Linked DNA regions of Homo sapiens: region 1 is linked to region 2. Evidence: fine-mapped expression QTL. Tissue or cell type: lung. Region 2 holds a variant in brackets; the other region holds the start of a gene. All regions are shown on one strand. Distances are from middle to middle.

Region 1 (8,106 bases), 44 kb after region 2:
TTCATTTCTGTAAGTAAACTTACTATTCATATAACACATCCCCCTTCTATCACTTTGTCATAAAATGAGATCCAACTGATGTTTTAAAAGAGAATGCTGGTGGGACACAGTGGCTCGTGCCTGTAATCCCAGCACTTTGGGAGGCCAAGGGGGAGGATCGCTTGAGCCTTGGAGTTTGACATCAGCCTGGGCAACAAAGTAAGACCTCATCTCTACGATAAAAAAATAAATAAAAAATTAGCCAGCCTTGGTGGTAAGTGAGTGTGGTCCCAGCTACACTAAGGCAGGAGGATCACTTGAGCCCAGGAAGTAAGGCTGCAGTGAGCCCAGGTCATGCCACTGCACTCCAGCCTAATCAAAAGAGTGAGACCTTGTTTTAAAAAGAAATAAAACTAAAAATAAAAGCAAAACAAAAGAGAGAATGCTATTCTATAGTAGGCTTTTCACATGCGAAGACTTACTGCTACAGTTTCAACTATTTGAGAGAGAAACAAACTTCTTACCAAATAATAATTTGCCATCTGGTTAAAGTACAAACTTAAAACTGGCCAAAGTCACTTAGCTAGTAAATGAACCCAGGTAAGAGTTTAGGACAGTATTTTCTCTTTCGCTCCAGAAATGATTTAAAAACAACAAACAAGCAATTTCCTTTTGAAAATGATCCCCAAAGAAAGCCATCTTTTACTTTAGGTGACAGTATTAATATGAACAGCCTTAAAAGACAATTCTTTTTTACTGTTTTTTCTTTTGTGTGTGTGTAAGGGAGTTAAAAAAAACTGTTCTACAACTTAAAAAAGACAAATCTTAATCAAGTGTTATATTTAACTTCATTTTTATCACGCAAACTACATTATGATGGTAATAAAGAACTTTGGAATTGAGGAAAGTTTCAGGACCCAGATGTCAAGAATGCTAAAGGGTCATAGTATATTACTCATCATCTCTCTGAACCCTTATGATCAATTATATTCACACATGCAAAAAAAAAAAATGAATAGAATGAGATCCCAGGATTCCATTCAGCTCATAACTTTATACATTCCAACAAGCCCTGCCGGGCTTCATTTTGACTGAAAATTGGTTTACACTGAGAAGTGTTGTTTTGGATTAAGGATGTGAACACCTAAAGTATAGTAAAGATCAAGGTTTTGATCGCCAAACCATGTTCCACTGACTAGCAGGGATTCACATCAAGGAGAGGACAAGGGAGAGGAAATTAGCTTTCCCTTATTCCATAAATAGGGACCAAGTGCTTATCATGCACCAGACTCTGCAAAAGGCCCCAGAGTAGGACAGACAAATACTACCCTTATATACATTAAGCATCAGTTTAGGCACTTTACACCACGTTCTCAAATGATCCTTATATCAACCCAACGGAAAGATAGGAGAGAAAAATAAGGCAAAACCATGTATCTCTGGAACACACGATGCAATTTAGCCAACAACCAATCTCATCAATAACCTGCATTCTCAGACTAATGTATTAGACATCTTGTTCTCTCAAGCTCCCACAAATGAACACTTCTTCCACTTTTCTTGATATTGAGGCTTAATTTAAAAAATGAAATTAACGGCCGGGCCCGGTGGCTCACGTCTGTAGTCCCAGCATTTTGGGAGGCCGAGGCGGGTGGATCACGAGGTCAGGAGATCCAGACCATCCTGGCTAACACGGTGAAACCCCGTCTCTACTAAAAAATACAAAAAATTAGTCGGGCGAGGGCCGGGCGCGGTGGCTCACGCCTGTAATCCCAGCACTCTGGGAGACCGAGACGGGCGGATCCTGAGGTCAGGAGATCGAGACCACGGTGAAACCCCGTCTCTACTAAAAATACAAAAAATTAGCTGGGCGTGGTGGCGGGCGCCTGTAGTCCCAGCTACTCGGGAGGCTGAGGCAGGAGAAAGGCGTGAACCTGGAAGGCGGAGGTTGCAGTGAGCCGAGATCGCGCCATTGCACTCCAGCCTGGGCGACAGAGCGAGACTCCGCCTCAAAAAAAAAAAAAAAAAAAAAAAAATTAGCCGGTAGTGGCCGGGCGCTGTGGCTCAGGCCTGTAATCCCAGCACTTTGGGAGGCTGAGGCGGGTGGATCACGAGGTCAGGAGTTCAAGACTAGCCTGGCCAAGATGGTGAAACCCCGTCTCTACTAAAAAAAATACAAAAAATATAAGCCGGGTGCAGTGGCAGGCGCCTGTAATCCCAGCTATTCCGGAGGCTGAGGCAGAAGAATCGCCTGAACCCAGTGGGCAGAGGTTGCAGTGAGCTGAGATCGTGCCACCGCACTTCAGCCTGGGCAACAAAATGAGACTCTGTCTCAAAAAAAAAAAAAAAAAAAATAGCCGGGCATGGTGGCGGGCGCCTGTAGTCCCAGCTACTGGGGAGGCTGAGGCAGGAGAATGGCGTGACTCCCGGAGGCAGAGCTTGCAGTGAGCCGAGATTGCGCCACTGCACTCCAGCCTGGGGGACAGAGCGAGACTCCTTCTCAAAAAAAAAAAAAATTAACACTTGATCACTAAAGTTGAAGAGGGGGCATAGAATTTGTATAGTATTTTATTTTCCAGATTTTTAGGTAAGGAGGTCGATACAATAAAATGGGACACTCCAAAGAGTAGATGCTAAATAAGAATAGCTTTTGGGGCTGAGTGCAGTGGCTCATGCCTGCAGTCCCAGCACTTCCAAAGGCTGGGGTGGGCGGATCACTTGAGGTCAGGAGTTCAAGGCCAGCCTAGCCAATATAGTGAAACCCCATCTCTACTAAAAACACAAAAATTAGCCAGGCGTGGTGGTGCACACCTGCAATCCCAGCTACTTGGGAGGCTGAGGCAGGGGAATCGCTTGAACCCAGGAGGCGGAGGTTGCGGTAAGCCGAGATCGCACCACTGCACTCCAGCCTGGGCGACAGAGCAAGACTCCGTCTCAACCAAAAGAAAAAGAAAAAAAGAAAAGAATAGCTTTGCGTTTCCCCCAAATTTTAACCGAATTTAAGAGTACAGACTAGTGATTGTTTTAAAGGAGTGAGGCACCTAAGCCTTTTTACTCATTCACTAATTCTAAAGCACAAAACCCTTCTGGCCCCAAACACACAGACTGTTTGACAGCTGTTTTGGAACAAAACAGGTGCTGTTTCTTGCTGCAAGGACAGTACTTGCAGTCAAAACGGCTTTGGGCAAGCTATGAATCTCACTTCAACTGCACTTAATGTCTGCAGATGACACTTGCGAGGGTGCTTTGTAAACAGTGAGCCACAACAAAGACAGTATTCCTTCAATGTTAGTGTTCAGCCTAAGAGCGGCAAAGCCCCATTTGTTATCAGCAACCAGCTTGGCCTCTGACAAGAATGTCAAAGACCCTGCCATCACCGGCCGCTACGAAGACGACCAGCTCCTCCTTCATCAGGAGCTGCCTCCCTACAGCCTGGCGGGAGCGACTACGTCACTAGGATCCCGGCGACCTGTTTCGGGTGAGCCTGGCTGAATCAAAGCTATCACGGCCGAGGAGCCCGCTGTGGGGGAGGGGGTAAGGCCAGGCTGGCGCTCAGCCCCCTCTCGTCTCACCTGTCTGAGCGCCGCCTCTTCAGGAGGGCCCGGGCAGGGGGCACCGACCGGTCGCAGAAACGGAAAATGGTGCCGAGAATCCTAACCAGCCATCTGTACATACCAGGCCCAAGCAGCAGCGGCGGCCGACACACCCCGAGACGCAAACCCCAGAGCTGTCGCCGCCGCTGCCGCCTTCGCCGTCTTAACCACCACCGCCAGAGTTCGGTCGCTGATTTGTGACGCGATTCAAGAGCCCACAGATACAGCGTCCCCAGGGCTACCAGAGGCCCCCGCCCGCCACCACTCCTGACGTCACCTCCTCCCGCCCGACCGGAAAGCTCCATTCTCAATCTGCGCACGCGCAACCTAGCACCGCTCCCTATTTCCGAGCCCAGCAACAAGAGTAATTGTGGGACGGTCCCGGCCCAATCGCTGACGAGATCGGAAGGGCTGTCGGCAGGGTTTTCTCTTCGGCGGAGCCAATCCGGAGCCGGCCCGTGGGACAAGGCCCACAGGCCACATGTGAGGCTGCTCCACTCCGGAGGAGGCGTTCCGGGGTCCCAGAGGACATTAGGTGCTCAGTGTTTGCTGAATGCACATGTAAAGGTAGATCAGGTTAATTAACACACGTTTACCGTTTTAGGCGCCCTTTATTTTGCACTTACCTTTTGCCTCGTACTTTTCACGCATTGTCACCTTAATATGCCCAGCAATGGCGTGTGACAGAGAGTCTTAAGCCAGTTTTATAAGTCAAGGAAATTGAGGCATAGAGCGATTAAGTTATTTGTCTAAGATCACAAAACTAGCTAGAGACGTGGCTGGAACTTGAACCCGGGGTCTGAGTACCAGCGCCAGTCCCTCGCCCTTGAGGTCAGTCTACTTGGAGACATGTACATAGATAATTACAAATTACAATACACCGTAAGTGGTTGCTGTGATAAAGGTATGTGCAGAGTGCAGTGGGAGCCAGAGAAAGGAAAACCACACACTGAGGGAGAGAAGGAAAGGGCAGATGTCCTCAAGAAAGGCTTCACAGAAATTTAAGGATGAAACCTGCGGCCCACTAATGTCTCCTACCCTGGGCTAGTAAGTAATGAGTCTCGTTACTCTCCCTCTATAATTCCAATGTCACACTTCTAGTTAATTGTCAACTATAGGCCGGGCGCGGTGGCTCCTGCCTTTAATCCCAGCACTTTGGGAGGCTGAGGTGGGCAGATAGCTTGAGCCCAGGAGTTTGAGACCAGTCTGTGCAACATAGTAAAACCCCATCTTTACAAAAAATACAAAAATTAGCCGGGTGTGGTGGCACGCACCTGTAGTCCCAACTACTTGGTAGGCTGAGGTGAGACGATCACTTGAGCCCAGGAGGTTGAGACTGCAGTGAGTCGTGATCACGCCACTGCACTCCAGCCAGGGTGACAGAGTGGGACCCTGACGCACCCCATCAAAAAATTATCAACTGTAAAACAAATCCCACCCTATTTAGTGATAGAAAATCCAGTCCCCTCTTCCAAACAATCCTAAGAATCCTCAAAGGTTTTCATGCCCCACAAATCCATTCCTGATTAACTTGTTTCCTACTTGTGATTCAGTTAAGGCCAGAGTTTTACACTTGCTTGAACTTCAACGCTGGCACTCCCCAGTACAGCCTCTTCCTTTCCTCAATAGACAGCATTCCAGGCCGGGTGTGGTGGCACACGCCTGTAATCCCAGCATTTTGGGATGCCAAGGCAGGCGGATCACTTGAGGACAGGAGTTCAAGACCAGCCTGGCCAACATGGTGAGACAACCCCATCTCTACTAAAAAAAAAAATACAAAAATTAGCCAGGCATGGTAGTACACTCCTGTAATCCCAGCTACTTGGAAGGCTGAGGCAGGAGAATCGCTTGAACCTGGGAGGTGGAGGTTGCAGTAAGCGGAGATTGCACCACTGCACTCCAGCCTAGGCAACAGAGCAAGACTCTGTCTCAAAAAATAAATAAATAAAATAAATACATGTGTGTGTGTATGTGTGTGTGTGTGTGTGTATGTGTGTATATATATATATATATATATATATATATATATATATATATATATGTAGCATTCCAGAATTGTGCTGCAAGCCACCCCCTAGAGCTTCAGAATCACCAGCCACACACCTGAAGCTACCACCACTCTGGCCTCGGGGGCTGGGGTCATATCCTAGAGGATGGAAGCAAATCCTAAGTGTGGACACACCCGCCTCCCTTATTCCCCTAAGCATAGCAAACACCAACCAGGCTGTTGCTGAAAGTTTGGGGCATTACAAAGCTGAGAAGACTTAGAAGTGGCTATTAGATTATGTAGCATCTATAGTCCCTGGCCTATTGTCTCGCAAAGGAATTCCCTTCACCTCAAGGCCATCCCTTTACTCGTAACACCTTTGGCAAGCTGCCAACAGAAGGGACTTTTCCCTCTACCTCTACCCCGACTATTTCAGGCTGGACTCCCCGTAAATGTAATCAAGAGTCAGGACTCCTATTAACAAAAGACAGTCATTGGCATTATTGTGCAAAGCAGTTCAGTTACGTCTGTCCCTTCCACTCACTATTGAGAGTTGGGCTTTGCCTTTGCCAAACCAAGAAGCCCGCTCAAGTACTGGGAGAGGATTCTCCCAAATAAAAGAGCAGTCTTCATTTAAACACGAATCATACATCCTAAGAGAACAATTTTTTTTTCCAAGTTAAAAAACACACACACACATAAATCAGAAAACTACAAGCTCTGCCAGGCACGGTGGTTCATGCCTGTAATCCCAGCACTTTGGGAGGCCGCGGCAGGCGGATCACGAGGTCAAGAGATCGAGACCATCCTGGCCAACATGGTGAAACCCCATCTCTACTAAAAATTAACTGGGCGTGGTGGCGCGTGCCCGTAATCCCAGCTACTTGGGAGGCTGAGGCAGGAGAATCACTTGAACCCGGGAGGCGGAGGTTGCAGTAAGCCGAGATCACGCCACTGCACTCCAGCCTGGCGACAGAGCGAGACTCTGTCTCAAAAACAAAACAAAACAAAACAAAAAACCTACAAGCTGCTTTTGAATAGCAACTTATCCCAGGTCTGGCCACTGAGATTTAAGAAATACTGTGGTAAGCTAGGTGTGGTGACTCACACCTGTAATCCCAGCACTTCGGGAGGTCCAGGCAGAATGATCACTTGAGCCAGGGAGTTTGAGACCAGCCTGGGCAACACAGGGAGACCTGTCTCTAAAAAAAATTTTTTTTTAATTGGCCAAGAGTGGTGGCATGTGCCTGTAGTCCCAGCTACTTGGGAGGCTGAGGTGGGAGTCAAGGCTGCAGTGAGTTGTGATTTCACCACTGCACTCCAGCCTAAGTGACAGAGTGAGATTTATAGTCTCAAAAAAAAAAAAAAAAAGAAAAAGAAAGAAATATATTGGGGTCACACTTGATAGCCCTGCGGTGCAACACAACAACACATTTTTTTTTTTCTTTTCCTGCCTCATAAATAGCACCCTTACAAACTCAATACTGAAACATTGGCCATCTGCCAGGAAGAGTGAGAAGGCTTCAGAATTACAGATCTCAGTCAGAATCTCAGGACCCCATCAGCAAACAATAACTCATGAATCGAATGTGGCAATCCTCAGCCTCCCACCGTGCATGCTCCCTCCATATCCCCCTAGTTACCCTCTAGAAGGAAGAAAAGGAGACGCATCCTTATACTCGCTCCCACCTGGGACTTGTCTGCCAGTTGGTGCCTTCGCTGTCCTGTGGTCCACAGTAGAGACATGGGTGACTGTCCATCCACTGGCCAAGGAGTGGGATTATCCTTAACCCCAACCCCACCACTGCCACAGCCTTTCCGGGACCTAGCAGCGCTTTACTGGAGGGCCATGGGAGAATCCCAAGGCCATATGGAGTAACAAGGACATTGAGATTTCTGCCCTTGGCTTGGATAATTTGCAGCCTTGTACTGCAAGAGGGGCACAACCTCATCGCTTAAGCTTTCGCAGGTGTTCCAATCAGATGCCCCAGTTCTCCAAGAAGATCCTTATCCCCTTTCAGCTCAGAGCAGCTCCTTGAAGCCTTTTCAGGGCCCCACCCCCTTCTTCCTCCAAACCTACCTCCCCTCCAATCCATTCTTTAGTCTTGCAAATTTCCCCTTTTAAAGCATTCAGAGAACTTTAACAAACTTCTTCTCAACTTTGTTTTTCCTGACCCCTGGACAGAAAAGAATTCTAGGCCATTTGTTGGAAAGGGTAAGGGCCCCTAGAGGAGGTTGTGTCGGGTTAGGCCTAATGTGCCTAAAATCCAACATAATTCACCACTCTGTAGATTAATTTCTTTCTAGGTACCAACTCTTCTGGTACTTTTTTTTTTTTTTTTTTTTTTTTTGGAGACGGAGTCTCATTCTGTCACCCAGGCTGGAGTGCAGTGGCACGATCTTGGCTCACTGCAACCTCCGCCTCCCGGGTTCACACGATTCCCCTGCCTCAGCCTCCTGAATAGCTGGGATTACAGGTTTTTCTTAAGTACCAGACGAGGGCTGGGCGCGGTAGCTCACGCCTGTAATCCCAGCACTCTGGGAGGC
Region 2 (8,106 bases):
AAAGTGTATGTGCAATGTTGTTTGTGTCCATATACAATCACACTGTGTGTGTGTGTGTGTGTGGTCACAACATAAAATACTTATTCCTATGAGTTGCAATAAAAAACAAGTGAAAGCCACTGAATTAAAGAGATGAATTTATTGGTAAATAGATAAAATTAACACCTATTTTAATATATCCAAACCCCTTCCTTATATATATTAGGTAAATTAAAAGAAAAAAATTATCAAAGCAATACTACAGCCAGCTACATCGCCAATTTACAAATGAGTTAGTAAGTACCATAAGTTTGTTTGAATATCAGGTGCTTCAGAGTTTTTCTCAAACAGTTACAAAAGAGATTAGGTTCCCAATCAGTTCACAAAAGCTAATTTAAAGAATGTAGCTTAACTACAGTACTGAGGTTGTCACACACTTAACTTTCGGTCTCTTGCTTATTTATTCATATCTGAGGTTCACTGTTTCTACTAGGATACATTCCGCCCACACCCACACCTTGGTCCCCACATCAAGCAGCTCCTCACAGCAGGAAGACATCCGCTATCAGACATGGTTTTCTGAAGTTGTGCTTAGGATTTCAGAGGAGGAAAAATTCAGAGGTTCTAATAGCCTTCGGTAACTGAGGTAGAATATGGGGCTCCCAAGAATATCTTCCATATGCCCCAAATCTGTTTCCCTCCCACCCCCATCCAGCTCTGTTCAAGGTCAAGTTTGAGAAAGATACGTGTTCTCAATGGTATATTTTTAAAATCCACATCAATTTTTAAGAGACTACCTGCTAAAGGAGAATAATGGCTCACTGCATCTTTTCTCAACCCCCTAAACTATTTTAAAAACACACTGGCAGGGACAGGTGCAATGGCTCACGCCTGTAATCCCAGCACTTTGGGAGGCCGAGGCGGGCAGATCACTTGAGGTCGGGAGTTTAAGACCAGCCTGACCAACATGGAGAAACCCCGTCTCCACTAAAAATACAAAATTAGCCAGGGGTGGTGGCACATGCCTGTAATCCCAGCTACTCGGGAGGCTGAGGCAGGAGAATCGCTTGAACCTGGGAGGTGGGGGTTGCAGTGAGCTGAGATAGCGCCATTGCACTCCAGCCTGGGCGACAAAAGTGAAACTCCGTCTCAAAAACAGGCTGGGTGAGGTGGCTCATGACTGTAATACCAGCACTTTGGGAGGCCGAGGCGGGTGGATCACCTGAGGTCAGCAGTTCAAGACCAGCCTGGCCAACATGGCGAAACCCCATCTCTACTAAAAGTACAAAAATTAGCAGGGTGTGGTGGTGGGCACCTGTAATCCCAGCTACGCAGGAGGCTGAGGCAGGAGAATCGCTTGAACCTGGGAGGCGGAGGTTGCAGTGAGCTGAGATCACACCATTGTACTCCAGCCTGGGCGACAAGAGACTCTGTCGCAAAAAAAAAAAAAAAAAACAAAAAAAAAAAACAAAAAAAAAACCACTGGCTTTAATGGTGATAATTTGCTACTAATAAAATCAATAGCTGTTTTTCAACTGAACACTTAAACTTTTAGATCCAAATAAACTGTTTGGATCTAAAAAACTATATTACTAACATGTTTCCTTATGCCAAGGGAGACATGTGAGTGCCTAGAGAAGTATGGCCTGTGGTCTCCCACATTCAATTCAGGAACTCAGGGTCAAGCAGAAGGCCATGCTATAGACTTCAACACTCTGCTCTTCCCAATTTCATTATGTCCTGCAAGTTTTAAGAGCCGTCCGGAAGAGTGTAGGTTAATGGAAAGCTCAGTGAGAACTGCTCTGAAGAAGCCCCTCAAAATAATACATTAAGCTCAGCATCATTCACGTGGGCGGAATACAAACTGACATTCCTAACAGGACTTACCTAGCATGGACTCGATCTTAACCATGGTACCAAACTCTCAAGTGAAGCACACTGATGCCTGGTGAAAGCCAGGCGTTTGGTATGATGCTGACCTAGTGAACCTCTGGCCTTTTTGGCTGTGCTCATTACCTGGTCCCAGCACTCACTGGCACAATGCCAGGAGCCCAGAGAAAGGAGCAGGGGCTGCGGGGGGGGGGGGGGGAGGGGGAAGGGGGGAGGGAGGGTGGGGAAAGGGGAGAAGGGGGGAGGGTGGGGGAAAGGGGGAGGGTGGGTGTTAGGGAGAGAGGGAGGGGGAGGGAGGGGGAGGGGGGGGAGGGAGGGAGGGGGGAGGGAGGGAGGGGGAGGGGAGAGGGAGGGAGGGGGAGTGGGAGGGGGGGGGGAGAGGTGTGGTACAACCTGCTCCCGCTTCAGTCATCACCCACCACATGGCCTCTGGCTGACCATCCAGTAGGCCCAGCATTTTCCATCCACACCACAGGCCCCATGTCCTAAACCAGGAGTTTTACAAGTCTCAGGGAACTGGCTGCAATAGCTGTAACCAGTATACCTCTGGGACCAGCAGCCGGAGCACTGCAAATGGCAGGCGTGTAGATTCATAGGTAACACGTGCACAATTTTTCCAGTTTTACCTCTTGCTTTTATGAACCAGAACAAGTCTGGGAGGTTTAAGTAGGGAGAGGGTTAGAAATCATTTCAGCATATACTTTTTTAGGTTCTGCCAGACCACCTTTTATTACATCAGAAAAGCAACACTAGGCACTAGATCTTGCAAAATATGTTCTGACCAACTCTAAACTGTCTGAAGTTATAACCATATCAGTAAGGTTTTTAATGAACAAAAAAGTTAAATACAAACTTTCATATGCAAAATAGATTATTGTATAACTGGCAACCTCAGAGCCAAGTACTAAATTTTCTTCCACAAATTTCAGTGGGGATGGAGTGGGGAGATGTTAGTCTTAATGAGTAGAAAACTTAATTTAGACTTAATATATAGAAAACAAAAACTCTGAGGAAAAATAGCTTTAAATTGAATAGTATCTTTTGAAATAAACAGCTCAGGCCAGCCCCTACAATTCTGAGGTTTATACTCAACCAGATCTGGGATGAAAATGAAGATTTAGGGTTTACAGTTACTTCAAATCCATGAATCCAGTTTGAAGACTAAGCCAAGTCACCACATTTCCAGAAGGGGAAGTCTCTTTAAGGTGACCACAACACTCTTCGGAAGATGCTTGGATA[A/G]TCAGAGTCCCTTGGGCACAGTTCCACTGTTCACGGCACTGTGCCAACGCTGTAGTGTCAGACTTCCTCTGAAAGGCAACAGGAGCCCTATCCCACAGCATTTTCATTTCTCCCAGCATTTTTTGAGCCTCAAAAAAACAAAAACAAAAAAAATCCCAAACCCTCCAGCTTCATGTTGGCAGTTACTGCTCCAGCTCCACTTCCTTCCGCCCCCAGTGAGAGTTCCCTCCTGCTCTTCAGCAGGGAGTGGCAGCTTGAGTAACATTCCTTTCAGAAATAAATAGTTCAAACAAGTAATTTAGAGCTAACTGTAAAAGAGCAGCAGTAAATGACCACTGCCCATTATGTTTGCAAACGAGTGAGTGAATGAATACGCTGAACAAACACACAGAAACAAACAATTCACAGAATAAATCCTGCATTTCCCACATTCATAGGGAAAAGAATCTCTTAAAAAAAATATTAGTTAGCGTTTGTTCTTGTGTGGGTTGAACAGTCCAAAGCTCTGAGCAGGCACAGCCTTACAAACAGGATTGCAAGCAGCCCTCTGCACCCCAAGTCAGGACTAGAGTACAGTGAGAGGCCTTCATGCACTTTTGACAGCTCAGTACCTGTGAGAACAGAAGTGATGCAGGGACTTTTTAACCCACAATGCATGAGGTATATGGAAATGTCTGTGAAAGAACCACCAGCAGCTAGAGGGACCAGGCAAAGTTTTCTCACAGCAACTGCTGATGAAGGATTTCCCACACCATCTTCTTCCGGAAGAGAGGCATCTGGTGCTGCAAAGAACCCCATAAACAACGCCCGCATTACATATTAATGTGCATGGCAGCACAACCTTCAGGTGTAATCATGTAATAAAGCAGGATGTCCATGTGCTTTTTCTAAGTGTTGACATTTTTACATCATGGAACATACTTATAAAACCATTTTTAACAGTTCATAATTACATGATATGTACCATAAGCACTTTTTTTTTTTTTTTGAGATGGAGTCTTGCTGTGTCACCCAGGCTGGAGTGCAGTGGCGCGATCTGCTCACTGCAACCTCTGCCTCCTGGGTTCGAGCGATTCTTGTCCCTCAGTCTCCAGCGTAGCTGGGACTACAGGTATGTGCCAGCACACCCGGCTTATTTTTTATATTTTTAGTAGAGACAGGGTTTCACCATGTTGGCCAGGCTGGTCTTGACCTCCTAACTGCAGGTGATCCGCCCGCCTCAGCATCCCAAAGTGCTGAGATTATTTATAGGCAAAAGCCACCACAGGCGGCCTACCATAAGCATTTTTATATGTTAAGGAAAACCAAAGCAGGATGTAGAATTATACAGTATAGTACAACTTCACAGTCCTGCAAATATCCACGTGGTGGCACAATAGGCAACTTTTCTACTTATATGAATTTTCAAAACATTCTAAAATGAACATATTCTGTTTTTTTATGAGAAAAACGTATTTATTTAAATAAAAAACAACAAAATCTACAAGTTTCTTTCTGCTCTACCAGGCGTTGTACATTGCCAATTCTGTTCAAACAGCAACTTCTCCCTTTAAAATCTCATCTTATTAGGTTCAGAGAACAGCCAACTGCTTTGCTATTTGGCAACATGAAACAATGAGATGTTTTGCTTAATAAATGATTCTGCTTTAACTGAGAATCACTACATGGGCAATTTGCAAAGCAGCAACACAAAAAGCAACTCCAAAATTACCCGTAGTACAACTAGTCCTTCTAGTGTATACGGAAGTTCACATTCTTGGCCAGGCGCGGTGGCTCACGCCTGTAATCCCAGCACTTTGGGAGGCCAAGGTGGGCATATCACCTGAGGCCAGGAGTTCGAAACCAGCCTGACCAACATGGAGAAACCCCGTCTCTACTAAAAATACAAAATTAGCCAGGGGTGGTGGCGCATTCCTGTAATCACGGTTACTTGGGAGGCTGAAGCGGAAGACTTGCTTGAACCCGGGAGGCGGAGGTTGCAGTGAGCTGAGATTGCGCCATTGCACTCCAGCCTGGGCAACAAGAACGAAACTCCGTCTCAAACAAAAAAAGAAGTTCACATTATTGAGGCACTCCTGATGTATCATTATAAATAGTTGGATGTCCCTTACTATAAACTAGTGATGTCACCGGGCGTGGTGGCACATGCCTGTAATCCCAGCACTTTGGAAGGCCAAGGCAGGTGGATCACCTGAGGTCAGGAGTTCAAGACCAGCCTGGCCAATATGGTGAAACCCTGTCTCTACTAAAAATACAAAAATTAGCCAGGCATGGTGGTACATGCCTGTAGTCCCAGCTACTGGGGAGGCTGAGGCAGAAGAATCGCTTGAACCTGAGAGGGAGGTTGCAGTGAGCCAAGATCACACCACACTGCACTCCAGCCTGGGCAACAGAGCAAGACTCCATCTCAAAATAATAATAATAATAATAATAAACTAGTGATGTCCTCCCTAGGGGTGGGGGCTAAAAAGTCTTAACACATGATTCTTAAATTATTTTAAATAGTTCAAAACATCTAGTAAAAACTGCACATTTGCTCTTAGTAAAACTGCTGAGACTAAGCAATAAATGCCTTTATTTTTTACTGGAATTATATTAATTCAGCACGGGAGTCCTAGTTACTTCACGTAATAGAGTTTGTATTACAGTTTGTATTCATGGAATACATACAGTTTGCTTGGTAGACAACATCTATCAAAATAAGGTCTGTGGATGAAAAATATTCTTTAATGAGGTTGTCCTCAGTTGTAAAAAGGTTGAGAATCCACTGTTACAAATTCTCAAGAATTCCCAACATACTTGAGTTTCCAATCAAATGCAAAGCCATGGAGAATTAAACAAAAGAGCAGAACAGGCCAGGCGCGGTGGCTCACGCCTGTAATCCCAGCACTTTGGGAGGCTGAGGCAGGTGGATCACGAGGTCAGGAGTTCGAGACCAGCCTGGCCAACACGGTGAAACCCCATCTCTGCTAAAAATACAAAAATTAGCTGGGCATGGTGGCGCATGCCTGTAGTCCCAGCTACTGGGGAGGCTGAGGCAGGAGTATTGCTTGAACCCAGAAGGCAGAGGTTGTAGTGAGCTGAGATCGTGCCACTGCACTCCAGCCTGGGCAACAAAGCGAGACTCCATCTCAAAAACAAAACAAAACAAAACAAACACAAAAGAGCAGAACAGAAAGGAAAAGCAGTATTCACAAGTTACATCTTAGACCTGTGGCTTCAGTTCTCACAGGCCGATTTTTCCCTTGCTATTAAACACTGACATACCTCTTTCTTTGGCTAGAAATAATAATACACAGGAACCAATGAATGCCACAGTTCAGAGATTTGCAAATTGTGCCCATTGTGTCACCAAAGACTAGGATAAACCTGAGAGCAGATAAAATAACCCTGATTCTGGCAGGAGTAGGGCTAAAACCAAGATTTACAGCAATAAGAATAGCACAGCTACTACTATTTTTTTTTTTTTTTTTTTTTTTTGAGACAGGGTTTCTCTCCTGTTGCCCCAGGCGGCTGAAGTGCAATGGCACGATCTCGGCTCACCACAACCTCCACCTCCCGGGTTCAAGCAATTCTCCTGCCTCAGCCTGCCTCCCTAGTAGCTGGGATTACAGGCATGCACCACCACGTGGCTAATTTTTTGTATTTTTAGTAGAGACATGGTTTCTCCATGTTGGTCAGGCTGGTCTCGAACTCCTGACCTCAGGTGATCCACCTGCCTCGGCCTCCCAAAGTGCTGGGATTACAGGCATGAGCCCAGCTACTACTATTTATTTTATTTATTTATTTTTGAGACAGAGTCTCGCTCTGTCACCCAGGCTGGAGTGCACTGGTGCGACCTCGGCTCACTGCAACCTCCACCTCCTGGGTTCAAGTGATTCTCCTGCCTCAGTCTCCTGAGTAGCTGGGATTATAGGCATGCACCACCACGCCTGGCTAATTTTTGTATTTTTAGTAGAGATGGGGTTTCACCATGTTGGCCAGGCTGGTCTTGAACTCCTGACCTCAGGTGGTCCACCCGCCTCGGCCTCCCAAAGTGCTGGGATTACAGGTGTGAGCCACCACGCCTGGCCAGCTACTACTATTGAGAGCTGAATGTGTGCCAGGCACTGGCCAAGTGCCTTATCTTGCTTAGTAACAAGTAAATGGATGAAGAGGGTCTTCACTCACCTGAGTAAATGTGATAGGTTTGTCCCTAGAAATATAATCTGCATATTTACAAGTAAACATTCCACAATCACTCCCATTCAGCTGTTGAGGAATCTCCTAAAATTACAAAGAAAAAAGAAGAGAGGAAAGGGTAAAACATCATTAAATACAAATTCCTTGGACTTTTTCTAAATATTGCTGTAAACAATATTATAAAGGTAAATATTAAATCAGGTATTACCTAAACACACAGTCATATACAAAAAACACAATTATTCTTACTCTATGTGGTATAAAACATAGATCATAGCAAGGGAAAAACAGGCCTTGTGAGAACTGAAGCCACAGGTCTAAGATGTAACTTGTGAATACTGCTTTTCCTTTCTGTTCTGTTCTTCTGTTTAATTCTCCATGGCTCTGCATTTGATTGGAAACCCTAACTATGAGATGGAGTGCATGACCCGACCCCACAGGAAATGCTTTTCAGAAGAGAAAAACACAAAGTGAGAGTTGCATCTCTCAGCTCCCATTCCAAGAAACCAAACTGAAAGGAGGTTTACTACCAGGGATGCTAGTCAGAATTATTTCAGAAGCATTTATCAATTTTAAAAAGGGCCAAGTGTGGTCAATCGGAAATGTAACTTCTCTAGCTAAGAAAATAAGACTACTGCTTTGGACCCTACAGCTTCAAGGTGGACAGAGAGAAGTTCTGGATAGGCTTTAACCAATTAGGATCTTGCCTTGATGGATCAGTTCTGCCGTAAGGCAAAAACACTTGGTACAAGCAGCACTAAGAGCATAATAAGCCAAAGGTGGTGGATTCTAACCCCACTGAGCTCACACCTTCTC

The links. PIP is the estimated chance that this variant, and not a neighbour inherited with it, causes the effect.
Region 1: it holds the start of SENP2, and the variant in region 2 is fine-mapped to the expression of SENP2 in lung (TOPMed, PIP above 0.99).

Annotation. Positions count from the first base shown.
Region 1 is chr3:185,581,960-185,590,065 of GRCh38, reverse strand. It overlaps SENP2 (SUMO specific peptidase 2), which reads right to left and starts at 3,771. Exons shown (of 17, transcript NM_021627.3): 1 at 3,552-3,771. The coding sequence starts at 3,652. RefSeq lists enhancers at 3,692-4,091, 4,132-4,181, 3,675-4,293, 4,294-4,912, 4,913-5,532 and 1 more.
Region 2 is chr3:185,625,566-185,633,671 of GRCh38, reverse strand. SENP2 (SUMO specific peptidase 2) reads right to left here. Exons shown (of 17, transcript NM_021627.3): 16 at 7,279-7,374; 17 at 121-3,890. The coding sequence ends at 3,828. Among named protein-coding and RNA genes, the nearest start is that of SENP2, 43 kb to the right of the region's middle. The variant A/G (reference allele first, on the strand shown) is at 3,109.